Linked DNA regions of Homo sapiens: region 1 is linked to region 2. Evidence: fine-mapped expression QTL. Tissue or cell type: transverse colon. Region 2 holds a variant in brackets; the other region holds the start of a gene. All regions are shown on one strand. Distances are between the middles of the regions.

What was found. PIP is the estimated chance that this variant, and not a neighbour inherited with it, causes the effect.
Region 1: PSEN2 starts here. The variant in region 2 is fine-mapped to the expression of PSEN2 in transverse colon (GTEx, PIP 0.99). The same link has a PIP of 0.9 or more in esophagus muscle, prefrontal cortex and tibial artery.

The regions. Positions count from the first base shown.
Region 1 is chr1:226,861,869-226,878,003 of GRCh38, reverse strand. It overlaps PSEN2 (presenilin 2), which reads right to left and starts at 7,388. Exons shown (of 13, transcript NM_000447.3): 1 at 7,355-7,388; 2 at 6,600-6,742; 3 at 2,454-2,639. LOC105373119 (a long non-coding RNA gene) reads left to right here and starts at 7,454. Exons shown (of 3, transcript XR_949226.4): 1 at 7,454-7,642. RefSeq lists silencers at 6,926-6,975, 6,986-7,585 and an enhancer at 14,082-14,630.
Region 2 is chr1:226,894,416-226,907,806 of GRCh38, reverse strand. It overlaps PSEN2 (presenilin 2), which reads right to left. Exons shown (of 13, transcript NM_000447.3): 13 at 11,709-12,383. The coding sequence ends at 12,228. Among named protein-coding and RNA genes, the nearest start is that of PSEN2, 30 kb to the right of the region's middle. RefSeq lists a silencer at 11,682-11,913. The variant T/C (reference allele first, on the strand shown) is at 9,684.

The sequences.
Region 1 (16,135 bases), 31 kb after region 2:
CTGGGGAGGGTAGGGTTAAAGGACCATACCCTTTCCATGTGACACTGCGCTAGACAGTGACCTGGTCTAGACAGTGACCTGGTGACCACTGTCGTCATCATCCACACTCGCTGACTGCCTGCCCTGTGCCCAGGCCCGGTCTCATCAAGACCTGACATGTCTTCAGGAAGAAACAAGGAAAAACTACAAAACATGCTTTCTAACCCACAAACGTCATTCATACATGCGGCCTCCTCACCAGAAAACAAGTGTTCCCTTGAGCAGGCTGCTTCCCTCATTCCACTTTCAAAAATTCCTCCAAGGCCTCCCCTGAAGCTGTGCCCACAACAACGAGGACCAAGACTTCAAGAAAGCAGGGAAGGAGAGAGCTGTCATTAAGGAATAATCAGGGAAGAGCTAGTCTCAGCTGTCACAGCAAGGGCACCCTCTAATCACAACCCTCCTAGCCTGGTGGGGTGGGGGTGACAGGTGGGAGGCACCAACTTAGGAAATGCTGAATCCCTTAGGATCACTGTTTCTCAAAGGTGGCCCAGGCCACTGGGGGCTGGTGGAGATGGACCAGCACCTGCTGAGCCCTTAGCCGGCACTAAACATCCTGGAGCAAGGTGCTACTATTCTTCCCCATGGTACTGATGAGGAAACAGAGGCTCAAAAAGTAATTAGCTCAAGGTTACCCTTGGACCTAGGTAGTGTGTCTGGACTCTTCACCACTCTGCTAGGCTGCTTATTAACAATGCAGATCTCCAAGCTCCATCCTCACCCAGTGTCAGGGATCCGCATTCGGGATGGTTGGTCCCCGGGTGATTCTCAGCCAGTGTCAGACTTTTCCTGGCACTGTCTCTGCTTTATAATCACCCGAACAGGCTGGGGCCCTTTCTCAGCAAGGTGAGTGTCCCTCACCCACCCACCTTCACCCTCTCACTGCTTGGCACTACTTGATTGCCACATGAGAGAGTGAGACAATGAACACTTTCTCCTGAATACCTAGAGTCTGGTCAGAGAGCAACTAGGGAGGAGGAGGAGTGGAAAAATCTCAGACCAGCAGAGCGGCATGGGGAGAAGAGAGCTCTTGGGCTGAAAAAGGCCCAAAACAATGCCCACTGCGGAGGAGAGTGTGGAAAAACTGGGTCTCAGTCACTACCTGGACAAACTGCACTGGCCTTAACTGAAAGGAGTAAGAATCAACACTTTAAACACAGCATACCTTTCGATCCTGAAATGCTACTTCATGGAGACTGTGACAGGACCACCAAAAATCTTATTTCAAACATTTAATAACCTGAACAATGACACGCTGTTAAATTTAACCGAACATAAAACTTTACGAACCTGATCATCTGAATGTCCTTATAAAATGTATGTATATAAAAGATCGGAAATATTACAAAACATTAAAGATGATTATCTTTGCATGGTAGAACCAAGAGTGGTTTTTATTTTCTTGATATTTTTCTGCATTTCTCTAAGTCGCCATAATAAACACAGACTGTATCTGTAGGGTTTATTTTAGGCTATTAATTCTTTAAAGGAAAATAACGAGCATCAACATTTAGACAGATTTTCCTCTACATCTGCCCCTCCCAGATCCCCTCTCATTGGCCAGGAGGAGCAGATGGGACTCAAAGGCTGTAACTTTTTTCATTTGTCCCTCAGCCCCTCTGATTTACCTAGCTCCTGAAGGAAAACAGAGCATCTGGGATGGACTTCTGCTACCCTCTGAATTCCTGAGGGCCTGCTTTGCAAGCCACCTAAGTCTGCTCTGAAGCCTGCTGGTGCTCTGAAATCCTTGGAGGGAAAAATCACCACCCAAACGTGTGCAGATAAACAACACTGCTAGGTGTCTGTCCACATTAGAGTGCCGGTGACGCGATGAACTCTCCCCGGAGGCTGACTCACGGGCAGGTGGGGGTGGGGCTGGGTGATGTCAAGTCCCATCAGCCACTCAGCGACCAGCTTTCCCCGTCTCCCACCCCCTGCACCCCATTCTCTAGAGAAGTGGCAGGAAAATGCAGAGAGGCAGAAGGAAGTGTCCAACATAGACTACGTTCTGGAAAGCCTTCCAACAAGGAAGTGCTGAGGCTGATAGCTGCTTTGGATTAGGATGCAAAATCAAACATCCAAAGAAGCCACTGCACATTCCCATTAATCAGCTGAATGGGATCAAACTGCTGAATTAGCCAAACCAAGGGAGTCTGACCTAGAGAATCTCCCCAGCCGTGCTTGTGTCAGCAGTTCCTGCAATCATTATGGAAACCCAATGACCCAATTTCCTCGACCTTCTTTTCATTACAGAGAAATGTAAAGGCTTTGGCCTTAACATTTAAGGCCAATGGAACTAGGTAAGAAACAGATTTCAAAATGCCACAGCAAACTCCCATGGAAATCTGCCTCCACGGAGAAAATCCTAATGGAAAAAGAGGGTTCAAAAGCAGGTTGGGAGTCACTGCACTTACCACGAACACTTGGGGCCGCAGAGAGGTCTGAATCCCGGACACTTGGTTTCTTCTTCTCAGCAGGCTAAATGAATGATGCTCCCTGGCTTTCAAAGAGGGCAGCGCTGGTTTTTAACACGTCACTTTCTATGGTCACACAGCTCCCTCACATCACTCTCCTGACGTCTGAGAAGTCCCACGTCCTCGCTTAAAACAAGGAAGAGTTTGCTAAGGTCAGGTGATACCCAGACAATTGCCCACAGCTTCCCTGCTCACCTTCCTCCCCCTGGCCCTGGGTACCCGACTATGTATTTGGTCCAGCTGACCATCCATCTCAGCTCATATAGTAACACATACCACTTGGGGATGGTTCTCCCTGGCCTAAGCCAGAGCTGGGGCCTGAGTCTCAAAGGGAAGTGAGGTACTGCCCTACCACCCTCCCGGACCACAGGCCCCAGGGGCCCTCTGATGGGGCCTCCTGAATTTTGGGCCAGGCTCTAGACTTACCTCTAACAGCCCTGTCCCACTCAGAAGTGCCTGGGGCCCAGGCAGAGTTCTCTCATTTCCTGAAGCAGCCAGGGAAAAGGGTGGTTTGTGGGGAAGTGGGAGAGGGAGCCCCTAGCACGCCCCTCTGGAGTAGGCTCCAGAAACACATTTATTTTTAAACAAGCAGCAGCAAGTCAGCGGTCAAAAGCAGAGGCTTTGGAGACTGACAGGGTTCAGATCGCCTGCCTATGTGATTTGAACCACATACTCCCTGGCCAAGAGGCCTCAGACAGTCTAATCTGACACAGCTCATTTCCTCTGCTGTAAAAAGCAGAACAGGCATACCTTGCAAGATTATCGTAAAACCTAGAGATAACCTGTAAAGTGTCCAGCACACAGTAGATGTTCAATAAGTCGTAGTTATAAAGAAGATGAAATGGAGGAGGGACACAGTGAGAAAGGACACGGTAGCCTATGGATGTGCCTCTTGGAAAGTTACGGATCTGCTGAACCACCAGACACATGAACTGGCTTCAAAGGCCAGGCCCCAGAGATCAAGTTTCCATTCCCGGCCCAGCCCCAGGCACTATGGCCACGTAAACATATTATCAAATGAAAGGACATATCCATAGGACAATGTCAGAGCTGGCAAGGACCGTAAAGGCCATCAACGCCACCTAGTCAGCTCCCTGTATTATAATTAAGGACAACTGAAGCCTAGAGGGGCAAAAGTAATCAGTTAATGTCCCATGGCCAAAAGCCACAGTTACAACTCAAGTCTCCAAACTGCCCATCAAGGAGCTCTTCTCAGCCCAGTCAGCACTTGTGAGGGTCACGTACCCAGTGGCCAGGGTTTGGTCACACAGGCAGGCCCACCACACACTACACAGGCTTTCTGGGAGCACACTCACAAGACACATGCCTTCACCACGGGCAGGTATGTGTCAAGAAATGCTCCCTAATCACTCACTCACCAGCTCATCTGTCACCTCAAAACTCTCAAGTCTCTCTCCTGCCCCCAGGGCTCACTCTGCTCTCCCTCTGCTACTTGCCCAGGTAGGTTTGGCTCCATGGTGGGGAGTGCCCACATATGGGCATGGGGAGGACAGAGGGCACTGCTTCTCTGGGGCAAAAGGGAGGGTGGGAAAGTGTCCTGCTGTGGGACTGGTAGGATAAATAATTCAAATGCTCTACACAGCCATCAAATCTGCTTTTCCATGAGTACTCAATAAAAGGAAAATTCTGAAGGCATAACAGAAAAAACAGGATACACAAACTTCACCTACGGTTCCCTCCCTCTATTGTTTTAATAGATAAATATGCATATGTGAACAGTGTGGAAGGAAATGCATGTTAAGAGTGGTTATCTCAGCCCAGCGCAATGGCTTATGCTTGTAATACCAGCATTTTGGGAGGCCAAGGTTGGCGGATCACCTGAGGTCAGGAGTTTGAGACCAGCCTGGCCAACATGGTGAAACCCCGCCTCTAATAAAAATACAAAAATTAGCTGGGAGTGGTGGCAGGCACCTGTAATCCCAGCTACCCAGGAGGCTGAGGCAGGAGAGTCGCTAGAACCCGGCAAGCAGAGGTTGCAGTTAGCTGAGATCATACCATCGCACTCCAGCCTGGGCAACAAGAGTGAAACTCCATCTCAAAAAAAATTTTTTTTCCCTAATTTTCTAGAATAAACATGAATTACTTTTATTTTAAAAAGAGTCCAGTAAGTTTCTGGTTAAGGTACAGCAGAATGGTGGACACCCTTTGAATTGTTCTTCCCGTTCTAGAATTTTCACAAAGATGAACAAGCAGCCCATTCTCCCACTCAGTGAAGAGGCTCTCAAGAAATGATCTCCCTCACTGACATCTGATCTTTCCTGAGGACTGATGTGAAACCATTTTTTTTTTTTTGAGATGGAGTTTTGCTCTTGTTGCCCAGGCTGGAGTGCCATGGCCCGATCTCGGCTCACTGCAACCTCCGCCTCCTGGGTTCAAGCGATTCTCCTGCCTCAGCCTCCTGAGTAGCTGGGATTACAGGCATGTGCCACCACGCCCGGCTAATTTTGTATTTTTAGTAAAGATGGGGTTTCTCCATGTTGGTCAGGCTGGTCTCAAACTTCCGACCTCAGGTGATCCACCCACCTCGGCCTCCCAAAGTGCTGGGATTACAGACATGAGCCACAGCACCCAGCCTGAAATCATTCTTTTCTCCAGACATTAACATGATGGTCATCCCATCTCCAGGATTGGAGCCCAGTGGAAAATGTTCCTCTCGGGGCCTCTCAGCCTCACCCCCGCCTTTCCGCAGCTGTGGCAGCTGGGAATAGAACAGGTGGGAATACTTGCAGAAATATTTGCTGTCTTATCAGTCCCCAACTAAACAGTGTCCGAAAGTCAAAGCAACAGCTGAAAACCCGCCAGAGATGTTTTCATTAGACACACTGCATGTGACCTACACACACTGCTTTGGTTTCTTTAAAAAAATTTTGTTTGTTTGTCAGGAAGTTGCTCATGGGGACTCCACAAAACTTTCCCAGCAGTAGTGGAGAGACACGGGTAGGAGTTGAATACAGGAACCTCCTGCGCAAAAACTCAAGAGATAAAGACAGTGTAGCCAGCTATGTTCAAATCCTGGTGCTTAAAGCACTGAAGCCACATAACTGGACTAGCTGCTTAACTCCCTGAACTTGTTTCCTCTTCTGTAAAAAGGTAATAATAAACTATTTCAGTGTCATTGAAATTCTTAAGATCTTAAATTCTAATATTCTGTACAAGATAGCTTTTTATTATGACCAACTCATAAGCGAGATATATGTCATTATTAACATCGATAACAGAGAAAGGCCAAAGTAGGCAAGAGGCAAACCCCCCTTGGGGGGACGGTGAGCAGCTACGGAGGGGAGACAGGTGTGACATTATGCACCACAGCTCCAGGCACCCCAGCAGCAGCCCCTAGCCCTTGCTCCTCCTCCTCCTTGCTGCTCTTTCAAATAGACAGGAACAAGCCACTCACTCCCCACATGTGAACATGCTGGACTCAAGACTTGGCACATGGGCACTTCAACACCAAAGGGTACAGAGTTTTCCCCAAAAACCTGATACATCCATCCCACTTCAAAGCAACATGCCCCCAAGCCCTCACTCCAGTCTCTGCCCTGGAACCCAAGGCTCAACGTGGGCGTCGTGAGGACGCAGCTCTGAGGTGGGGCCAAGAACCAGGCCCCTTCTGCACCTGCGCCAGTCACCGGCTGCCCACAACCACATTCAGGAGAGAAGAACCTGAGGCTCACACACCTGAAGCAGCTTATCCCGAGACTCCAATTACCGCCAAAGGTCTTGGCTGAAGGCCTTGGAGGCTCAGGTGTCTGCAGAATTGGCTACAGAGGCATCAGAGGCTTCCTTACTGGAAGCTGGGGTCGGTCCTAATCAAGTTACTTCGTAGACAGCCTTGGCAACCCCAGGCTGTCGCTTCTGAGTTAAGTTAGTCTACAATCGTCTCTATGGAATGCTCTCAGGTTCTCCATTTGTAAATAGGGATGCAGTTACTTCACTCAACACCGTTCATACCTTTCAAAGGGAATACTTATTAAGGCAATAAACAGGGGTGAGGTCTGCTCGGAGGGATGGACAGCAGATCTAGAAGCCAGGACACTGGGGTCGAAGCCTGGCTCTGCTATATCGTACCTGGGCGACCTTGGGAAAAGTCACTTTAGCTCTGTGGCCTCAGTTTCTTCATCAGTAAAATTCAGAGGGGGGACTAGCTTCTGTCTCAGGTTCCTTCAGCTCCAAAAGCTTGCTTCTGGCTGTCTCCTCACTGCTGGAAATGCCTGATAAAACAGCCAAACACCGCTGCTAACAGAAACCGGCTCTAGGCTTGAGCCTGCGGCCCTGCCCCTCACGTGCGGGCAGAGCCCCCGCGCGCCTCCTTCCCGGGGAAAGCATGCCCAGGACCCGGTGCTAGAGGCCGAATGGACTCGGCGCAACGGAGGTCTCCGGCGAGAGAGAAGAAGAACAAAACGCCCCCGCCTGCTACACGCCTCAGAGACCCACGTGCACCGCTCCTTTAAATGCACCGGCCCTTTAACCGCTCGCGCCGCGCCCACCCCCAGCCGGGGCTCGGCGGCAGGCGGGCGCAGGGAAGTGGGGACGCAGTGAGGCCGAAGGCCTGAGGGCCGCTCCCCGCGATCCTTCCACGACCCAGTTCCGGGCCGGCCCAGCCGCCGCCTGCCGGGCACTCTCCTCTCTCCGCCCCCGCGCTGGCCGCAGAGGCCAGGAGCGCTGCGCACGCAGGGGCCGCAGACCCACAGCCGGGGAAGGGACCGTGGCCAGAGGCGTGCGGAGGGCAGGGCAGGGCCCTCAGGGCGCAGCCCCACCCCGGGCCCTCAGCGCCGCAGGCGACAGGGCCCTGGCCTGGGCACCCCCCGGCACCGCCCGCTCACCTGCTCTGCCGCCGCGCTCCAGCGGAGTTTACGCAGCTGGCTGAGCGCCCGGCCGGACCCGGCGCCGGCCCAGGCCCCGCCCCACGCCCGCCCAGGCCACGCCCGGTGGGCGACGCCGCGTTCCCTCGTCCACTGGGGCCCCACCTGGAGTCCCGGGCGCGCGGGGAGGGTGGCCTTCACGCCGCGTGGATGACAGGGTCATCCCGACGTCGGAACTAAGCGACGACCTTAGAAGGAGTGGAGGCCGGGCCTGTCATCTTCCTGCGGGCCTGGCAGCAGCGTGGGGCGGTAGGACATAGGCTTCGAGGACACTCTTTCTTGTAGTTTTGGGTCCACATCCCCTCCTCCTCCCGGTTGTTCTCACATTAAAGGAGCACTAATGGCCCAATGTGAGCTAACACCATGAGAATGTTCCTGGTCTGTTCCCTAGGGCGCTTCAGAGCCACCAGGAGCTCTGCATAAAATTGAACAGGAATAAATTGCTGCCTGACCTGAGAATTGGCCTAGGGGGTTGTGGTTCCAGGATTTGGGGTCTGTGGGGTAGGTTGAGATTGTCAATAATTTGGCGTTGTCTGAGTAGTTTTACTTTTTTTTTTTTAACTTAAGGTGAAATTCACATAACATAAAATTTACCATTTTAAAGTGGGCATTTCAGTGGCATTTAGTGAATTCACAATGCTGTGCAACCACCACCTCTGTCTAGTTCCAAAACATTTTCCTCATTCCGAAAGAAAAACCCCATACCCATTGAGAAGTTTCTTCCCAATGCCCTCTTCCCCCCCAGCCCCTGGCAATTACCAGTCTACTTCTGTCTCTATATTTACTTACTTTAGATACTTCATATAAACGGAATCACAGTGTGTGGACTTTTGTGTCTTTCACTTAGCATGTTTTCGAGGTTCATCCTCAGGTAGCATGTAACAGACTTTATTCCTTTTTATGACTGAATAGTGTTTGTGTGTGTATATGTATATGTGTGTGCGTGTGTGTGTGTGTATCATGTATGCCACAGTTTATTCATCTATGGACATTGGGGCTGTTTGCATCTTTTGGCTTTGTGAATAATGCTACCATGAACATGCATGTACATGTATTTGTTTGAGAGCCCATTTTTATTTGGGGAGGGTACATACATAGGGGTTGAATTGTTGGATCGCATGGTAATTCAATTTTTTTTTTTTTTTGAGACAGAGCCTTGCTCTGTTGCCCAGCCTAGAGTGCAGTGGCCGCAATCTTGGCTCACTGCAACCTCTGCCTCCCAGGTTCGAGCAATTATCTTGCCTCGGCCTCCTGAGTAGCTGGAGTTACAGGTGTGTGCCACCACATCTGGCTAATTTTTGTATTTTTAGTAGAGATGGGGTTTCCCCATGTTGGCCAGGCTGGTCTTGATCCTGAACTCAAGTTATCTGCCTGCCTTGGCCTCCCACAGTGCTGGATTATAGGCATGAGCCACCGTGCCCAGCCTTCAGTGTTTAACTATTTGGGGAACCCCAAGTGGTTTCCACGATGGCTGAACCATTTTATATTCCTACCAGCAATGTACAGGATCCCAATTTCTCCACATCCTCACCAACACTTGTTATTTTCCATTTTATTGTTATCCTAGTAGGTGTGCAGCGGTACCTCATTCTGGTTTTGGTTTACATTTTCCTAATAACTAATGCTATTAAGCATTCTCCTTTTCATGTGTTTGTTGGCCATCTGTATATCTTCTTTGGAGACATGCCTATTCAAGTCCTTTGCCCATTTTAAAATTGGGTTGTCTTTTTGTTGTTGGGTTGTAAGAGTTCTTTATATATTCTGGACACTAGACCCTTATCAGATATATGCTTTGCAAATATTTCTCTCCCATTCTGTAATTGTCTTTTTCACTTTCTGATGTCCTTTCATGCACATAAAACTTTAATTTTGATGAACTTCAGCTTAACTGTTTTTTCTTTTGTTGTTTGTGCATTTGGTGTCCTGTGTGAGATATCATTGTCAAATCCAAGGTTGTGAAGATTTACTCCTGTGTTTTCTTCTAAGAGTTTTATAGTTTTAGCTCCTATATTTAGGTTGTTGATCCATTTTAAGATAATTTTTGTATGTAGTGTGAGGTTAGGGTCCAAGTTCATTGTTTTGCATGTGGACTTCTAGTTGTCCCAGCACCATTCGTTGAAGAGATTGTCCTTTTCCTATTGAATTGTCTTGGCTTCTTGTCAAAAATCAATTGGCCATAGATGGATGGGGAAAACCAAATATTTTCAAAGAGCTGTTTAAATGCAGATTAACCCTGGATGGAACTGGGGCAGGCCAGCATTTTGGCTAAGAAAATAATGGTCCAAATAATGATCTTTGATAAATTTGAGAAATTAATTACATTTAACAGAATTATAAAAATAATCGATTCTTGGAAAAGGAAGGACACCTGAAGGTCACAAAGTCCAACTCTAACTGATGCATATGAGCCCTTGCTACAGAATTCCTGGGAAATAACTCCCCAACCTGGTTTGTTGTTGTTGTTGTTTTGAAACAGGGTCTTGCTTTTTCGCCCAGGCTGGAGTGCAGTGGCACGATCTCAGATCACTGCAACCTCTGCCTCCCAAGTTCAAGTGATTCTCTTGCCTCAGCCTCCCAAGTTAGCTGGAATTACAGGTATGTGCCACCCTGCCCAGCTAATTTTTGTAATTTTAGTAGAGAGGGGGTTTTTGCCATGTTGACCAGGGTGGTCTCGAATTCCTGACCTGAAGTGACCCTCCCGCTTCGGTCTCCTGAAGTGCTGGGATTAGATTACAGGCATGAGCCACCGCGCCCATCCCTGATTGGTTGTTGTTGTGTTGTTGTTATTTAGCTTTCAGTGTTGCACTTGATAGGCTGAATTTCCCCTAATGTGAAGAGGCTGCATATGCCCTAAGGTGAAGCATAATGACTCAATAAATGAGTTAGGAAGTTGTGATATAATAAAAATAAATATTTGGTCTTTATCCCCGTTCCTGGCACAAGCTTCTAAAACCTTTGGAATCTCAGGTGTGATGAATGTTGTTGGTATGCTAATGAAATGACTGGTGGCTGGGGACCCCTGACTAGCTTCAGGATAGGGGCTGGTGGCCAGAAAGACTAAGGCATGATCTAAACAAACAGAAGACTGCAGCCCTTAATAAGCATTAACAGGATCTGATTTCCAGAGTTACCACATTATAATATTCAAAATGCCCAGGTTTTTTTTTCTTTCAATCAGCTTTTTCAGGTTGAAGTGCCCAGTTTTTGTTTTTTTTTTTTTTTTTGAGACAGAGACTCCCACTGTCACCAGGGCTGGAGTGCAGTGGCGCGATCTCAGCAGCCTGCAACCTCCACCTCCCAGGTTCAAGCGATTCTCCTGCCTCAGCCTTCCGAGTTGCTGGGATTACAGGCACCCACCACCACACCCAGCTAATTTTTTGTATTTTTAGTAGAGACAGGGTTTCATTATGTTGGCCAGGATGGTCTCGAATGCCTGACCTTGTGACCCACCCACCTCGGCATCCCAAAGTGCTGGGATTACAGGCGTGAGCCACCATGCCAGGCCCGAAGTGCCCAGTTTTTAACCAAAAAGTAAATAAATAAATAAAATAGGAAGCATACCAAGAAAAAAGAAAAGTACAACCCATTCACAGGAAAAAGAAATTGATAGAAACCATCCCTGGGGAGGCCTAGACATTGAACTTGCTAGACAAAGACTTTTATTTAAATGTTTAAAAGTTTACTTAAACGTTTATTTAAATGGTCTTAAATATGCTTAACTAACTAAAGGAAACCATGGACAAAGAACTAAAGGAAGCCAGGTAAACAATAAATGTATAAACAGAATATCAGCAAAGAGACAAATTATGAAAAATAAACCAAATCAAAATTCTGGAGCTGAAAAGTACAATAGCTGAAATGAAAATTTTGAAAAGATGAACAACACTGACAAATCTTTAGCTAGACTGAGAAATAAAGAGTAAAGATGCAAATAACTAAAATCAGACATGAAAGTAGGGGCATCACTATGGACCTTACAGGAAAAAAAAAAAAAAGCATTTTAAGTGAATACTGTGAACAACTGTACACAAATGACCAAAACTGACTCAGGAAGAAATAAATCTGAACAAGCTAGGAAAAGTAAAGAGATTGAATCCAATAAGAGGTTGAATCAGTAAGGCCAGGCACGATGGCTCAAGCCTGTAATCCCAGCACTTTGGGAGGCTGAGACGGGCAGATCACGAGGTCAGGAGATTGAGACCAGCAGATCACGAGGTCAGGAGATTGAGACCATCCTGGCTAACACGGTGAAACCCCATCTCTACTAAAAAAAAAAAAAAAAAAGCCGGGTGTGGTGGCAGGCGCCTGTAGTCCCAGCTACTCAGGAGGCTGAGTCGGGAGAATGGCATGAACCCGGGAGGCGGAGCTTGCAGTGAGCCGAGATTGAGCCACTGCATTCCAGTCTGGGTGACAGAGCGAGACTCCATCTCAAAAACAAACAAAAAAAAAAAAGGTTGAATCAGTAATCAAAAACCTCCCCTAAAGCAGGACCAGATGGCTTCAGCTTGGTGAATTTTCTGCCAAACCTTTAAAGAAAAATTAACACCAATTCTCAAACTCTACTAAGAAATAGAAGAGGAGGGAATACTTCTCTGAACTATTTTTTCTCACAACACTTCTGACACCAAGTGTGTGGTTTTTTTATTCCACACAAAAACAATTCTCCAGACACCAAGTGTGTGTCCTACAATTCAATTCAATTCTGATAATATGTACCTGAAGTTAGCAGAAGCTCCCCAGACGTAGCCATTTGGGGGTGTTTATGGAAGTTTTATTGCGTAGGCACCATTGATTGATCAACATCATTGGCCATAAAATCATTGACCCAGGAGGTCAAGGGGTAGGGCTGAACAGTCCAGCCCTCTTTGCCTGGCAAGTTCAATGTCTAGGCTTCCTCACGGATGGCTTCTGTCAGTTTCTTTTTCCTGTGAATGGGTTATACTTTTCTTTTTTTCTTGGTATGCCTTCTAATTTTTTTTGCTGCTGTTAAAAACGACATTTCAACCTGAGGAAGCTGATTGAAAGAAAAAAACTGGTCATTTTGAATATTATAATGTGATAACTCTGGAAATCAGATTCTTTGCCCTTTGCAAGATTTGCTGTTATTGCTTATTAAGGGCTGCAGTCTTCTTTGTTTAGTGACATTTCCATATGATTTTTGCAGACTGCATTCTTTATATGTAGACACTGAAGTCTTTGATCTGTTACCTCAGTGGTCAGCCACAGTTGACACAGATTTCCTTAAATACCTGGACTAAAAACACCTGGACCAAACACAAAAGAAAAATCTTCTGATCTTGGCAGATTGGCTCTGAGCTGAGGCATTCCTTAGACACTTAGCCAAGCCACTCTTTCCATTTTCCCTAGACTTTACCTCCTGCTTGCATGGAATACAAAGATCAGCCACAGGTGCAAGCCTAGGGTCCTCTTAGATCTTTTCTGAGCATGTGTCCAGCCCTGGACATGTGCATTGCAGCCTGGGTTCCCTGGTATATGCAGTAGCCCTTCAACGACCTTCTTTCCCCAAGCATCTTCCTCCTCAGCGTCCTCCTTCCCAGGATTTTTGGTCTATGTGCTGCATGACCCATCTGCTGTCCCTTGCTCCAGACAGCTATGGGGAGTTTATGTCTTTAAATGTTTTCAACAGGCTGGGCACGGTGGCTCACATCTGTAATCCCAGCACTTTGGGAGGCCAAGGTGGGTGGATCACCTGAGCTCAGGAGTTTGAGACCCACCTGCCCAACATGGTAAAACCCCGTCTGTATTAAAAATACAAAAATTAGGCAGGCATGGTGGTGGGCGCCTGTAATCCCAGCAACTTGGGAGGCTGAGGCTGGAGAATTGCCTGAACTCAGGAGGCGGAGGTTGCAGTGAGCTGAGATCGTGCCGTTGCAGTGAGCTGAGATCGTGCCATTGCACTCCAACCTGGGTGACGAGAGTGAATCTCTGTCTCAAAAACAAACAAGATGCCACCTGGGGAGGTGCACCAGCCTGAGGGGTTGAAGAAAAGACAAGCCTCTGCACCAGTCCCCCAGGGAACTGCCAGGCATGTCAAAATGCACAATCACAATTACTTGAGAACAAAGTCCATATTGCTCACCCTGGCACCAGCAAGCTACATGAGGAATGTTTAGTCCTCTCCCTGAATCCTAGGTACATGGACAACTGCCCATAAGCCACTGCACTCAGAAATCCCTCAGACTATTTTAGGTGAAGCCCTGTAACTAAGTTCCAGGTAATCGGATGGAAGGAGAAGAGGCATGTCTTTTTTGTCATTCTGCTTCCTTTCGAGAATATGGAGATGATAGCCAGAGCTCAGGTAGCCATGCTGGGCCATGAAGACCATGAGGACGGTGAAGCCACAAAATGGAAGGAGCTGTGTCCTCAATTGTGGAGCCACTAGCTTGGCATTGCCTAATTCCTTACTTGGTTTCATGGAGGGAAAACCACTTTTATCTTGTTTAAGCCATTGTAATTTTGTGATTCCCTCACATACAGTTAAATCAAAGCTTGCTTGCACACACGGCCTTTCCAGCCACATTCCTCCTACGCTGTATGCCCCACTAGCTATGCTCAATGCCATGCAGCTCTCTCTGCTTCCATTTCTTTGCACAGCGTTTACTGGGAGTTATCAGGAGGGTCTTCTTCACTTGTCTCTCTCACTACCCATGAGTGTCTTGTCTCTGTCTTGGATTCCTTATTTTAATTCTTGGAGGAACTCAGGGAGAGGAGGGCATTATTGCTTTTTTACACATGGGAAAATGGAGGTTTACAAAGACAAAATTGTTTCCCAATTGTGCTTGGATAATGAGTAGCAGAACCAGATGTGGAACTCAAGTCCCTCTGGCCCAATGCAGTGGCTGGCCCTCTCCTTCACTTTGAAGGTCCCATGGCAGTGCATGCACTGGGGCTGTGGCTGAGGGATCTTTGATGAATTCATTCCCTTTGTGGTTTTCCTTTGAGGTCGTCAGCTGCTTTTCACATGCTGATTTGTGAGGGATGAGTAAACTTCTTCCTGGGCCTGGCCTCAGTTCAGGAGGGATGGCCTCTCTTCGGGTTTTGGTGTTCAGAGCATGGTGTTTTCTTTTAACACACTCTAGGGTCCCAACACTGCTTAGCAGACAGCGTGGGGGAACGGAACCCGTGTGAATGTTAGAACCAGATGGACCCAGGTCTGAAATCTGTCTCTTCTACTTATTTGTTGCCTGACCCAGGGTGATTTCTTAACCTTGCTGGGCCTCAGTTTTCCCACCTGTGAGAGGATAGGATGATATCTCTCAGAGGTTTATAGAGAGAATTAAAGAGAAACCAGTCAAAATGACAGGATTATGGCAGGCACTCTACAAATTTTAGTTGTCTTCCTTCTCCTACTTCTCTTCTCATTTGAGGTAGGAGCTTTGTTTGGTTTTGTTTGACATTGAAATGATAGACTATATTATTGTTCACAAATTTGGAAGCCTTGCTTCACATGAAAAAAAAAATAGAAGAGTAGATGAAGCCAAGTGTGGTGACTCATGCCTGTAAGTTCCAGCTACTTAGGAGTCTGAGGTGGGAGGATCACTTGAGCTTAGGAGTTTGAGTCCAGCCTGGGCAACATAGTGAGACCTCTGTCTCTAAAAAAAGAAGAGTAGATAAGTGCTAGCAATATCTGACATAAGATTGCCATGGAGTGAGCCTGAAGTAGTTTCTTTTGAGCCATGCAGAACCACATTCCATGTCAACAATAGTCTCACCAGTAGGGTTCCAGGGCAAGGTCAGTCCGACATGCATGAAACCCAGCCATAGCATAGGCACTAGGGACACATCCCTAGGGTTTGCCAGTCATGTGTGACACTGGGGACAGAAGGGATGCTTAAAGGACACCTTAAAGCAGCTCTTTCTTTGCTAGAGCTTTTGCCAGTGTGTCTGGGAGTTGGCACCAATCATCTGAAAGATTCTGGTCAACTCACCTAATGACACTTACCACCACATTTTTCCAGCATTTTCTCTGTATTATGGGATGATTTCATCTTTCCATGGAGGATGTTTATGTGATTTTGAGACACTCTTAGGATGGGTCTGCTCTTACCATTTCAAAAATTTAAGCCAGCAATCCTCAACCTTCTTGGCTTCATAACCTCTATACTCTGTTAAAACTAATTCAGAACTCCAAAAGCTTTTGTTTATGTGGTTTATGTTTACCAATACTTAACCATATGCTGTGGTTTGGATGTGGTTTGTCCCTGTGAAAACTCACCTTGAATTGCCAGTGTAGCGGTGTTGGGAGGTGGGGCGTATCAGAGGTGATTAGCTCGTTAAGATGGACTTCTTGTGAGACCCGGCTAGTTCTTGCAGAACTGAACTAGTTACCATGATAGTGGGTTGTTATAACGCAAAGCTGCTCCTTGTTTTTGGTCCCTTTTTTGTACATGCCTGCTTCTCCTTCTGCTTCTCCACCATGTTATGATGCAGCGGGAAGCCCTCACCAGAGGCCAGGCAGATGTGGGCGCCGTGCTTCTTGAACTTCCAGCTCCAGAATCATAAGCCAAAAAAACCTCTTTTCTTTATAAATTACCCAGCCTCAGGTATTCTGTTACAGCAACATTAAGTGGACCAAGATACCATGTTAGAAAGCAAAACTGAGAAATTTTTTAAAAATATTCACTCACTTTAGAATGACAAACCCATTATGTGTTAAGATATGACATTCTAATGAAAAATCTATTTTGCAAACAAATTTAGTGGGAAGAATGGTACTGTTTC
Region 2 (13,391 bases):
TTGAGACAGAGTCTCATGTTGTCTCCCTGGCCTGAGTGCAGTGGCGCCATCTCTGCTCACTGCAACCTCCACTCCCTGGGTTCAAGTGATTTTCCTGCCTCAGCTTCCCAAGTAGCTGGGATTACAGGTGTCCATCACCATGCCCGACTAATTTTTTTTTTTTGAGAGTCTCGCTCTGTTGCCAGGAGTGCAGTGGTGCAATCTCAGCTTGCTGCAACCTCTGCCTCCCAGGTTCCAGCAATTCTCCTGCCTCAGCCTCCTGAGTAGCTGGGACTACAGAAGCACACCACCACACCCAGCTAATTTTTGTATTTTTAGTACAGATGGGGTTTCACCATGTTGACCGGGATGGTCCCAATCTCCTGACCTTGTGATCCACCACCTTGGCTTCCCAAAGTGTTGGGATTATCGGCATGAGCCACCGTGCCTGGCCACAGCTAATTTTTGTATTTTCAGTAGAGATGGGGTTTCACCATGTTGGCCAGGCTGGTCTCAAACTCCTGAGCTCAGGTGATCCGTCCGCCTCGGCCTTCTAAAGTGCTGGGATTACAGGCATGAGCCACTGCACCTGGCCGGAAGATACATTTTCTTAGCTGAATGAGATGGTAATTAGTAGAGGGTGACATTGGCTAAACTGGGGCATGTCCTGTTTCAATTTGGTCCCCCAGCAGCAGAGCTGAACAGGAACTGAGTGCAGGCAGTTCCCATGCACCACAGAGAACACCGAAGAGGGGTGAGAGGACATGGCCTGGGATCAGGCTTCCCTCATGAGGCCAGCAGGCAAGGGAATGAATATTTACTGGATAATACTTTAACCCACCACCAGACTGACATCTGCCAAGGAAAGTAACTCCAGACACCTAGTCTAGTTCTTCATTCATAAATGTGAACAGTCAAGCAAGGATCATCAGCCATTTTCAAAGAGTTATATAAGAAATAAAAGGACCTAAGATGAACAGATAAACAAAAAGGCTAAAGAAAACTGAGACAATTAATCAAATAGAAAACCTTTCAAGAATTACTCGTTTCTCAGTAAGAGCTGAGAAGATATTGCCTCCATCAAAAATAACAGCTATGAGAGAGGAGCAAGTAAAGATCATGAGTTTTTGGAAATTAAAAAAAAAACAAACAAGATTGTCAAAAAATAAAATCTAAAAAGGCTAGAAGAAAAATCCTAGCATACAGAGCAGGGAAAAGACAAAGGGATGGAGAGTAGGAGACAACACTGAAGAGACACTAAAAAACAAGTTCTGAGATCTGACACCAGTCTTGAGGGAATCTCAAAAAGAGAAAACAGAGAAAATAAATAAGGGGAGAAAATTTCCAAGATCTGAATAAAGACTCAAATATTCAGATTTCAAGGCACAGGGAATGGTGAGCAAGATGGATGAGTAAGAATCAAATCCACATCCCTGACTCTGTGAGTTCTCTGTGAATAGTCACTATTTCAGAGTTGGACTGACCTGATCAAAGGTTCTGGGGGCTCTTGGGGGCGAGGTTACATCATAGTATGTGGCCACCTGCCTCCTATTGGCTCCTTTTCCTTCTATATCAAGTGGAGGCCAAATCCCTCCCCAAGTATTATCATACAGAGACATTCAGCTCCCCTTGCTTAACCAGACCCTGTGCTTAGTAGAAGAAAAGCCACCAAACAGGACCCTTTTAAAAAGCGAGAGTTATAAATAGAAAAATATATTTAACAGGTGCGTAATAATCTTGTGTTTCCCTAAGGCAGTCTAAGTGGCTTTCTGCTCCTTCTAATCCAATGAAGGCAGGCAGATTTGGTACCAGCAGTGGGGATGCACAGAACATACCCTCAGAAGGAATATGTAAGTGACTATGGCACCATGTCCTTTTGTGGGAGGGGGTGAGTGATCACCGTCCCATGCAGGGGTGAAAGTTCATGGTTTGTGATGATGCAGTGTCTGAGAAAACCACCACCTGTGACTCAGGGATGGAGACGCTATTCCCACCAAGGATGAAGCTTTGGAGAACTCTGTTGCCATTGCTTAAGATGCATCCCAAGATAATGAGGAATGCAATGAGGAACGAATGGCTGCATTGCTACAAGAGAAAAGGGATGAATTCTGCTCCCAGCTTATTTACCTGGAAACAGATGTGAAATTATTGCAATATCCAGCTACAAGAAACACTTTCTTCTCCTTACATCCCCTAGCCTCAAAATCTTGTTCCAATACAAAGCAGTGTATCTATTCATTTAATTTTCTGATACATGCCCTTAGGGCTTCACCTTTTACTTGATGCTTCTCATCAAGATGTTTTCTTAAATAAATACAGCTTTTTTTTTTTTTGAGATGGAGTTTCATTATTGTCACCCAGGCTGGAGTGCAATGGTGTGATCTCAGCTCACTGCAACCTCCACCTCCCGGGTTCAAGCGATTCTCCTGCCTCAGCCTCCCTAGTAGCTGGGATTACAGGCATGTGCCACCATGCCCGGCTAATTTTTGTATTTTTAGTAGAGACAGGGTTTCACCATGTTGACCAGGCTGGTCTCGAACTCCTGACCTCAGGTGATCCATCCACCTTGGCCTCCCAAAGTGCTGGGATTACAGGCGTGAGCCACTGCGCCCAGCAGTAGCTCCCTTTCTAAGAAGAATTCTGGAGAAACTACTTAGACAAGCTTTTTGGGGGTGTTAAACACTGGAGGAGCAGATTTGGGGTGTTGGTGGGAGAGAAGAACAGTGTTTTGAGACACCTAAGTGGAAGAGATACCAAGTGAGCAGAGATGTCTGACTGAAAGGTAGGTCAGGCTTGCATGTGGCTGCACGTACTAGAAACCCAACTATAATAGTTTAACCAGATAGGGGTTTCTATTAATAACATAAAAGAAGACCAGGCCAGGCACGGTGGCTCAAGCCTGTAATCCCAGCACTTTTAGGAGACCTAGGTGGGTGAATCACTTGAGGTCAGGAGTTCCAGACCAGCCTGGCCAACATGGTGAAACCCCATCTCTCTAAAAATACAAAAATTAGCAGGGCATGATGGCTTGTGCCTGTAGTCCCAGCTACTCGGGAGGCTGAGGCAGGATAATCGCTTGAACCCAGGAGGCAGAGGTTGCAGTGAGCCAAGATGGCACCACTACACTCCAGCCTGGGTGACAGAGTGAGACTCCATTTCAAAACAAACAAACAAACAAACAGAAAAGAAGTCCAGGGGTGGCTGGGGCAGCTACTTGTGGTTTCCTTCTCTGTCATACACGCTTTGCCTGCGGCTTTCATCCTGGTGGTCGCTAAGCAGCTGTGACATCTCAAAGCATCACATCTGTGTCCCATGCAAGGAAAAAATGGCAGATTATGGCTGAGGCGCCCCTCCCCGCCTTTAAAACCAGGAGAACAATAGCTTTTCTGGAAGACCCAAGCACTAGACTTTGGCAGAGCTGAGTCACATGGCCACTCCTAAGTGCCCAGGACCCTGGGAGGTGAGCAGTGCTAAATATGCAGGAGGACACCCTGAGCACAGCAGGATCTGCTAGGAGGGATACTGGGGAAGGCAACTCGCTTGTGAAAGCCACGTGAATGGATAGGATCACACTGGGAAGAGAGGAGGAGCAAGCAGAGAAGAGGAATGAGAACTGAGCCCTGAAAATGTGCATCTAGGGTAAAAGCAGAGCAGCAGCTGGAAAATGGCCAAGGAATGAGCAGGAGGAGGGAAGAAGAGTAGGAGGAAACTGCCAAACAAAATAAAATTGGAGCTGGGTGCGGTGGTTCATGCTTGAATCCCAGCGCTTTGGGAGGTTGAGGCTGGACAATCACTTAAGGCCAGGAGTTCCAGACCAGCCTGGGCAATATAGCAAGACCCTGTCTCGACAAAAATTAAAAAAAATTAGCAAGGCATGATGGTGCATGCATGTAGCCTCAGTTGAGGCAGGAGGATTGCTTGAGCCCAGGAATTCGAGGTTGCAGTGAGCTATGATCATGCCACTGCATTCCAGCCTGGGTGACAAAGCGAGACACTGTCTCTAAAAAAATTAATTTTTAGGAACTGGATTTAGTAAGGAGAGACTTTATTCAAAAGGATTATTGCAAGGATAGGAAGGGGCAGGAAAGGAGATCATTGCAAATAGGGGGAACCTCTGACTGTTAAGATCTTCCAGAGTCTCAAGATCTAGGCAAACACGTTTTCTGGTTTTGTTTTTTTAATAGGGGAGTAAACACGACCAGAAAGAACAGATGTGGGGAAGTGGAATGGAAGGGCAGCAGGATCAGGTAGATCAGAGGATGTTCGACTCTGGGGCCAACCTCTTCTCCAGAGGGGATGTCTGCCGACTCAGGAAAGTTTAGGGACCTGGGGAAAGGAGGGAAGTTTGGTTAATGAGCATTTTATTCCGATTAATCAGTGGGGAAAAGCAGCTCAGCTAATCATTTAGAAGACTAAGAATGGGAATTTGGAGGGTCTGTGTGTGTGCTCTTGTCATAATTAAACAAGGGAGACATCTAAGAGGCCTAAGTGCTCTGGGAAGATGGCTCTTTGCAGGAAGCTGTCTGCTAGAACACAAAGCATGGGGGGTTTTCTTAACCTTGGCTGTTTCCAGAAGCAAGGGCTGAGACAAAATCCAACATTTTCAGAACCAACAGAGACAGGGTGTCATGAAAGGCTTGGAGAAGAAAGTATTTCAAAATCGAGACCACCCATTGTTAGAGTAAGTCATGCTGGAGTCAAAAAGAAAAAATCAAAAAATGAAAGAAAAAAACTCAGTGTTTTAGTATGAGAATGTTATTACAATTTTTAAAAATTTATTTTGATAATTTCAAGCCTATAGAAAGGTTGCAGGAATAGTACAAATAATTCTTCCTGATTCCCCAAATATTTTACTACGTTTGTTTCTCCATGTGTGTGTGTTCAGCCTCTCAGGTTTCTGTTCCCCTCCGAGTAGGCTCTGGAGTACTGGAGGGTGGGGTAGGCAGAGGAGGGTGGCTCTGGGTGGCCAATTGGGGTCTCCTGGCTGTCCATCTCTGCTGGCAGCTGTAGGCCCTTGCTGGCAAGACTCGGAACCTGATTTCCTGGTTTGGTTATAACAGGTGCTTGCAAGCCAGCCCAGCCTCCCCAGCTCTCACTGACAGACCCTTGGCTCAGTGGACACCCCACCCCATTCCATTGCAGGCCTCAGAGAGGGACTGCTGGCTCTCTGCTTGGGGACCTACCACCTGCCCCCTCAGGAATGGTGGGAAACTTCTGTCTTGTGCCGTGGCTCAGAGAAGATAACCCCTGCCTACCTTCCAACCCCACTGACTTCCCTTTGGAAGATGGTACAGGATCAGGTACTGTTGAGCCTGAGACCTGACTTTCTCCCCAAATCCCAAATGGGGAGCAAGGGGAGGTCTTCCCTACCTCCTCTCTTCTCTCCATCCTCCCCATTCCCAGAACACCCCAGGGCCCACGGTAAGCCATGCCCTTACTTCCTCTAAATCAGGGGTCCCCAACCCCCAGGCCATGGACCAGTACCAGTCTATAGCCTATTAGGAACCAGGCTGCACAGCAGGTGGTAAGCGGTGGAGATGAGCATTACCACCTGAGCTCCGCCTCCTGTCAAATCAGTGGCATCGGATTCTCATAGGACCTCGAACCCCATTGTGAACTGTGCACGCCAAGGATCTAAGTGGCACACTCCACATGAGAATCTAATGCCTGATGACCTGAGGTGGAGCAGTTTCAGCTCCAAATCATCCCCCCAACCCCTATCTGTGGAAAAACTGTCTACCATGACACCAGTCCCTGGTCCCTAAAGATTGGGGACCACTGCTCTAAGTCACATCCTCCTCTCTCCATGGATGCGGCCCCTTCCCTACCTCCTGGGAGAAACTCTAAGGAGTCTTCTGGGTTTGAGTTTTCAAACCTACCACTCTTATTAAATGACCCAAGTCCCTACATCTCCTGCCCTGAGGTGATAAGACTCTTCCTTGGCCTTCCTTAGGGGAAAATTAAAATGCATGGGTCATTTGCAAAGTAGCAGCTTGCTACAACTGTATTTTTCTCAGAGGCCTTCTCTTCAAGAATTAATGTTATCTTCCCCTTTTTGGTCATTTTAAAAGTCATTCTCATAGGGAAATCTTTGACTTTAAATTTTAAAACTTAATAAAATGTAACAAAAGAAAGATATCTGACCAGTAAGCACATGAACAGGTGCCCAACGTCATTAGTCAGCATTAGGGAAATGCAGATCAAAGCCACGAAGAGACACCACTTCACACACACATGAATAGCTAAAATTAGACTATTTTTTATTTTTGGCAGAGATGGGGTCTTGCCATGTTGCCTAGATTGGTCTTAAACTCCTGGGCTCAAGTGATTCTCACGACTCAGCCTCCCAAGGTGCTGGGATTATAAAATCATACTTTTTTTTTTTTTTTTTTTGAGACAGTTTCGCTTTTGTCACACAGGCTGGAGTGCAATGGCGTGATCTTGTCTCACTGCAACCTCTGCCTCCCTGGTTCAAGTGATTCTTCTGTCTCAGCCTCCTGAGTAGCTGGGATTACAGGTGCCCGCCACCACGCCCAGCTAATTTTTGTACTGTTAGTAGAGACGGAGTTTCACCATGTCGGCCAGGCTGGTCTCGAACTCCTGACCTCAGGTGACCCGCCCACCTCGGCCTCCCACAGTGCTGGGATTACAGGTGTGAGCCACCGTGCGTAGCCTGTTGGGTGTTTTGAGTGGCCTCGACAGGAAGATGGCAGCCCATGCTTGTTATCAATTACACACTGCAGGGAGGACCTATTTCTGCTAGTCAAGAGCACCTATTCTACAAACCACATACCGTGGGCTTATATACTAACTACTCCCTGCTTGATTTTGGGCAAGTCAGTGATCTCTGTGCCTTAGTTTCCTCATCTATAAAATGGAAATTAGAATAGTAGTTACCTCCTATTGTTACGAGAATTGAAGGTAAACTCATTTAGTGCGAGCCTAGCACAAGGTTGGCACTGGGTAAGGGTTTGCTACTGTCACTGTTACTCTCTACAGAGTCCACAACCACTGTCTCGAGGTCCTTCCTAAGGTGTCCAGTGTTGCACACAGCAACACAGCACTTCTGCTTATATTCAGTTGGCCATTAGTCACATGTACTGACAAGTATCTCCCTGGCTGCCTTCAGGGAGCTCTTGGCCAATGTCCTAAAAGCTTCCCCACAGCTTTCTGGCCATTCACTCAGACCGGACCCTTCCTCCCTACCACCATTCAAAGCTGTCCCAAAATCCACGGTCCCTCACAACACCTTTCTCAAGTAGCTGAAAGAAAGGCAGTGGTTACAGGACCCTTCCTTCTCAGCGGGTGACCACAGGACCCTGCCGCCCCATTCGACTCACATAAGCATAAAACACATCACCGAATCACAAACTGCAGGCATGCTTCTACTTTGCATAGTTTCATCGGCTTGCAATCCACATAGACTGTGCTGTCAGGCATGAAAATTGTCCACAGAGGGGGCAGGGGGGTGCACATGGATCTGCACCTCATCCTTGGTCACTCTAAGCCACTCGCAGGCATTCTGTAGAGAGCCAATGGTGGCAGCGGTGGGGGGCAGAGGGTCTCCTAACCACTGACCATTCTGACTGCTGGTCCAGCTCCATCACCTTCCCCTCATTTTAACCCCAGGATGGAGGTCTACCTTAATCCCCACTGCTGTCATCTGCTGCCTCCCGGGGCCCATTTCCACCGTCTTTGAAGACATCAGCTTGTGATTCACATGATCCCTCACGACCCCATTTTCTCATTGTTTTGGTAACTTCATTATCTGCATTGGTAAACCAAAAGACACGCCATAACCACGTATCCCTTATCTTGTTTAGGTGGATATATGGCCACTTGAAATAAAGACATTTCCCAGTCTCTCAGTCTCAGACAGGTATGGCCGTGGGACTAATGGCCAATTGAATATAGGCAAAAGTGCTGTGTGCAACTTTGAGACATGTTTTTAAGAAGAGGAAATGCACCCTTTTCTAACCTCCTTTCATGCTGGATGGAGTGTGACTTGACGGCTAGCACACAGCAGCCAGCCTAGGTCATGAGGTGAAAGCCACTTACTGATCTCAAAGGAAAAAGAGGCATCTGACCCCTGATACCATGCACTATTGCACCCTCTCCAAGCTGCCTGTGCCTGTGAAAGGATTCTAGCCCATCTTGTTTAAACCACTGCAGTGACCTAACCCTTACTGACTCCCACCACCATTCCACACTATTATACTTCTGTAGCTTTATACTGTTTTAGGAGATCCAGTGTAACTTCAGATTTACATACCCTCTGCCTCTAGCATCTCAGGAACAGAAACTCTCAGGACAGGCCCCATCTTCTCCTTTCACCACCTAAGTTTCTCTGCTTCAATCACCTGGTGAGGCATTGGCCTGCGAGAGAGCAAGTTCTATTAACAGTAGAGAGCTCAGGAACCCATCCACCCACTTATGGAAACTTGGTATATGTCAGGAGAGTTCTACAGACCAGCGAGAAAGGAGAGACTGTTCAGTAAACAGTGCTGGGACACCTGGTTACAAAGAAAAACAAAATTAGGTCCCTACTAAATACAATCATAAAAATACATTTCAGATGAACTAAAAATCTTATTATGAAAATAAAAATTTAGAAAACCTTGAGGGTAGGGAAGGATCTCTTAAAACAAGATTCAATGGCATAAGCCATACAAGCAAAAAACTGATAGATTTAATAACATTAACATTTAAAAATTACTTGGGTCCAGCAAAACACTCCTAAAGGCAGGGAAGAGAGGCAAGCCACAATGTACCAGACATTTGCAATGCATATAATTAATCAAAGATTAGCATCTCTCCAGAATATATATTTTAAGAGGCTTAAATATCCGTAAGACAAAAAATCCAAGTGAAAAATGGGCAGAGGATATGAACAAGTAACAGAGAAGGAAACTTGGGCTGGGCGCAGTGACTCACACCTGTAATCCCAGCACTTTGGGAGGCCGAGGCGGGTGGATCACGAGGTCAGGAGATCGAGACCCTCCTGGCTAACACGGTGAAACCCCATCTCTACTCAAAATACAAAAAAACTAGCCGGGCGTGATGGCAGGCACCTGTAATCCCAGCTACTCAGGAGGCTGAGGCAGGAGAATGGCATGAACCCGGGAGGCGGAGCTTGCAGTGAGCCAAGATCACGCTGCTGCACTCCAGCCTGGGCGACAGCGCGAGACTCTGTCTAAAAAAATTAATAATAATGAACAGAGAAGGAACCTTGTACAGCCAATACACATATGAAAAGATAATTATAAAACCTAAAGGAAATGACACCCATCCAATCAGACAAGATGAAAAGTCTGATGACACCAAGTATTATAGAGTTGGGGAACTCTCAGATTGCGGATGGAAGGATAAACAGACACATACTTGGAGGGTAATTGGGAATGTCCAGTCAATTGGGGGAATTCCAATACTTCCTCAAATCCACACAATGTGATGGGATGCTCACTGCAGCACAGCTGTAATACAGAAACACTGCAAAACCCCTACAGGTCGATCAATAGCATATAAACAGTAGAACTCATACAATGGAACACTATACAATAGTTAAAATAACTGGGCTGGGCACGGTGGCTCACGCCTGTAATCCCAGCACTTTTGGAGGCCAAGGTGCGTGGATCACCTGCAGTCAGGAGTTTGAGACCAGCCTGGCTAACGTGGTGAAACCCCGTCTCTACTAAAATACAAAA[T/C]TAGCCAGGCATGGTGGCGGGCAACTGTAATCCCAGCTACTCAGGAAATTGAGACAGGAGAATTGCTTGAACCCAGGAGGCAGAGGTTGCAGTGAGCCAACATCACGCCATTGCACTCTAGCCTGGGTGACAAGAGCAAAACTCCATCTCAAAAAATAAATAAAATAAATGAACTGGAGCTACATTTATACATGCCTCCAGAATGCAATATTTTAAAAAATTATCAAATATGTACAGTATGATACCATTTCTGTAAAGTTAAGAAAACATGCCAACATACAAAACAAAACTAACCATAGATGAGAAGGGCAGAAATCGACTTCAGGACAGGAGGCGGAGGCAACAGGACTGGGGCCACATACAAACAGGACTTCAGAACGTGGGTTTTATTTCTAAAGACAAATCTGGAGCAAATATGGAAAGATATTAGTTGACGGGTTACACGGGGGAGATACAGGTGTTTGAACACCAGTACCCTGCTCTTGTTCGGCATGTTCGAATGCTGTCTTTTACAAATTCTCTCATTTTTCTTCTTTGCCATTTGTGTTCTGGGTTCATTTGTCTCCCTGCTCTCTGGGGACCTCCAAGTAGCATCTCCTCCAGTGTCTTTGTTCTCTCCAATGCTCTTCCCTCGTCTTCTCACATGTCCTTGTTTTCTCAGTCTTAACACTTCACCCTAACCATCACCAGGCCCCTTCATTTCTTCCTCCCTCGCTGTCTACTTAAGGGCCCCCAATTTCTGCCTTTACCTCTGAATGTGGTCTCCACCCAGCAACCCTTGGCCAGGCCTTTGAAAGACCTCAAGCTTAATGATTCAAAATATATGTCCAATCCCATCTTTGGAAACCCCACCCTAAAACTGCTCTTCTGAAGATAAACACTGCCATAATTGCCAAATTGAATAAGCTTTTCAGTTTTTCTTTCCCCTTAACCTCTTGCGAGTTGTCACCATCAGGGACCATCCCTGTCTGCTTTACCCGCTCCCCGCTGTGGCTTCCATGACGGCAATGCCCCCCATCCCAGGTCTCTGACCTGCACTACTAATCAGTGGGATTCCACCCGCCAGTGTTCGGCCTCCTCTGTCCTTCCTTCTTAGGGCACCACATTTTCCTCTGCCCTTCCTCAAACAGCCTGGGGGAAAGCAAGCTCCTGTCAAATGTCAAGATACACAATTCTCATTCCTCTCATAATAAAGATGCATTGTCCCGGCACTCATGTTATTCCTGGAACAGGGAGACAGGGGTACCAGTTTGAACCCCAGGGCACACTTGCGTCTTCTCAGCTGTCTGATATACCTAACACCTGCTTGATCTCGGCTCATTGCAGCCTCAGCCTCCTGGGCTTAAGTGATCCTCCCACCTCAGCCTCCAGAGTAGCTGAGACTACAGATGCATGCCACCATGCTTGGCTAATTTTTAAATTTTTTTTTGTACAAAGTCTCACTATGTTGCCCCGGCTGGTCTCAAACTCCTGGGCTCAAGTGATCCTTCCGACTCGACCTCCCGAAGTATTGGGATTACAGGTGTGAGCCACTGTGCTCAGGAAGAGGCACTTCTGAGATTCTCTTTGCAACCCATGATTGATGTACAGAGAAGGCAAAGCCAAACTGTCCACTCTCCCACCACAGTGCCCAGGGCCAAAGCCAGAGAAGGAAAGGAGAGTGGTTTCTGAGCTCAGGCCCTCACAGGCTTCTGCAGAGGGTGAACACTTGCTGAAGGAACCACTGGATGTTTTGGCAACCACCTGGCAGTGTCTGTGCCACCGTGCACAACTGAGTCCAGGGACCTGCTCAGCATCCACAGCCTTACAGCTCAGGGCTGGCAGATGTCAGGCCACCCTGCTCTCCTAACTCCTTTGCTTAGGAAACTTTCTAGTTAAAGAAATGTGTGCAGAGAGGCGAGATCATTAAAAGTTCCTTCAAACAGGGCAAACTGCCTCCATCCTGGGCTCACAGCACAAGTTATCCCAGGGGTGCCCAAGATGCAGGGAGAGGGGTCAACATTTACAACGGACCAAACTCCAAGATTCTAACAGGACTCATCTATTTATTGATATTACTATTAAGCCACTTCCCAGCAGTGTGACTGCCGTAACAAGAACAGGACTCAGTTTCTAAAGGCAATAAAATAACAAGGACATCATGGACAAAGCATTGGGAACACTCCTCGTAGGGAACTGGCTTTTCCTCTCCAGCCAGAGCACCCAGGTGCCAGGGGCCACTCCCGAGCACACTCTTTGCGCATCTCAGCCCTCATGCCGGATGCTCTTCTCCCCGCCCTAATCTGACCTTCTCAGTTCATCTGGATAAACCTGCTGTGCTTCCTGTCCGTGAAGCGAGGCGCTCCCCAAAGCGGGAGCCAAAGTCTGGTGATGAAACAGCTGGCACCAAAGAGCTGGTTCTGCCTCCTCCTCACCAAGTAAACACGTACTTTATTTTTTAAGGAAAGAAAAGTCTTAAAAATATATGGCACTAGAGTGTAAAACTATACAACTGCATCCAATGAAAATTCCCTGCAGCTTGCAGCCTGTGGCACACCATGTCCCTCAGATGTAGAGCTGATGGGAGGCCAGGGTGTCCATGAACGGCCGCACCAGGTTGTCCGTGGAGAAGTAAAAGATGAGCCCGAACGTGATGGAGATGGGGAGGGCGGGCAGCGCCTTCTTGAACACAGCAAGCAGCAGGAGGGTCAGACACAAGCCCTGCAGGACATGGAGGGGAGGGTGAGCGTGGTGATCCCTGGTGTGGACAGGAGCTGTGAGTCATGGTCTAGTCCCTGGGCACAGGAGCTTGTTCGAGGACCAGTCGGATAACGGCGCTAGACACCCCATTATCTTCCCTGGTCCTGCAACAGCTCTTGAGGTGTTAAGGGCAGAAGTTCTCACCCCCATTAGATCACCTCACCTGTTAGTGAGTGAACCAGAAGGCAGGCCTCCTGACTCCTGGAGCAGTGCTGTGCCCCGAGGCCGTGCTGCCTCCCCTGTCTGGCTGGAGTGGTCACATGGGATGGTAAGATGCCCTCAGGGAACATGTATTTATATGAGAGCTAGGTGGGCTCAACTGAAATGGCAGTAAGGTTCTCAGCAGCTGGCACCAAGGGAATCAGAGCCGCCAGGCAACCTGCCCCTGGGAAGCAGGTGTGGGGGCTGCCCATCCTCCCCTGACCCAGCTGATGCAGGCAGTGGTCCAGGTGAGCACAGGGAACCAGGGTGCCTTCTATATCTTTGGGGCCAGCAGGGCTCAGGTAAGGCAGTCTGGTGGTGGAGGAGCCTGGGTCCACCATCCCATCCCTGATATACTTGTGGGCAAAAAGAAAACCTTCTGGACACTGGAGCATCAACCTTAATCATGCCATGCCCAGGGTTTTCACTAAGGGGCAGATGCCAAGCGCACGGCTCAGACGCTCCTCCTCCTCTAACGTGACAGCGAAATCTCTGAGATGAAGTCACGGCAGGACGTCTCCCCATTATGTGTATCTGGTCACGTTAACTGACTACAGGGCCTCCACATTTCACTGCTGTGGTTCACAGTAACGGGGCCACCCCTAGTGCCCCAGATTCAGACCCTGTGGTGTCCCAATGGCATGGAGGAGGGGGAAAACATGGTCCTCACTAGCTTTGCGCCCATGGGCAAGGCCCTTAAGCAATTTTCTTTTCTGCAAATCTGATGTCATCACAACCACCTCGAGGGTATCATCACTGCGCAAAGCT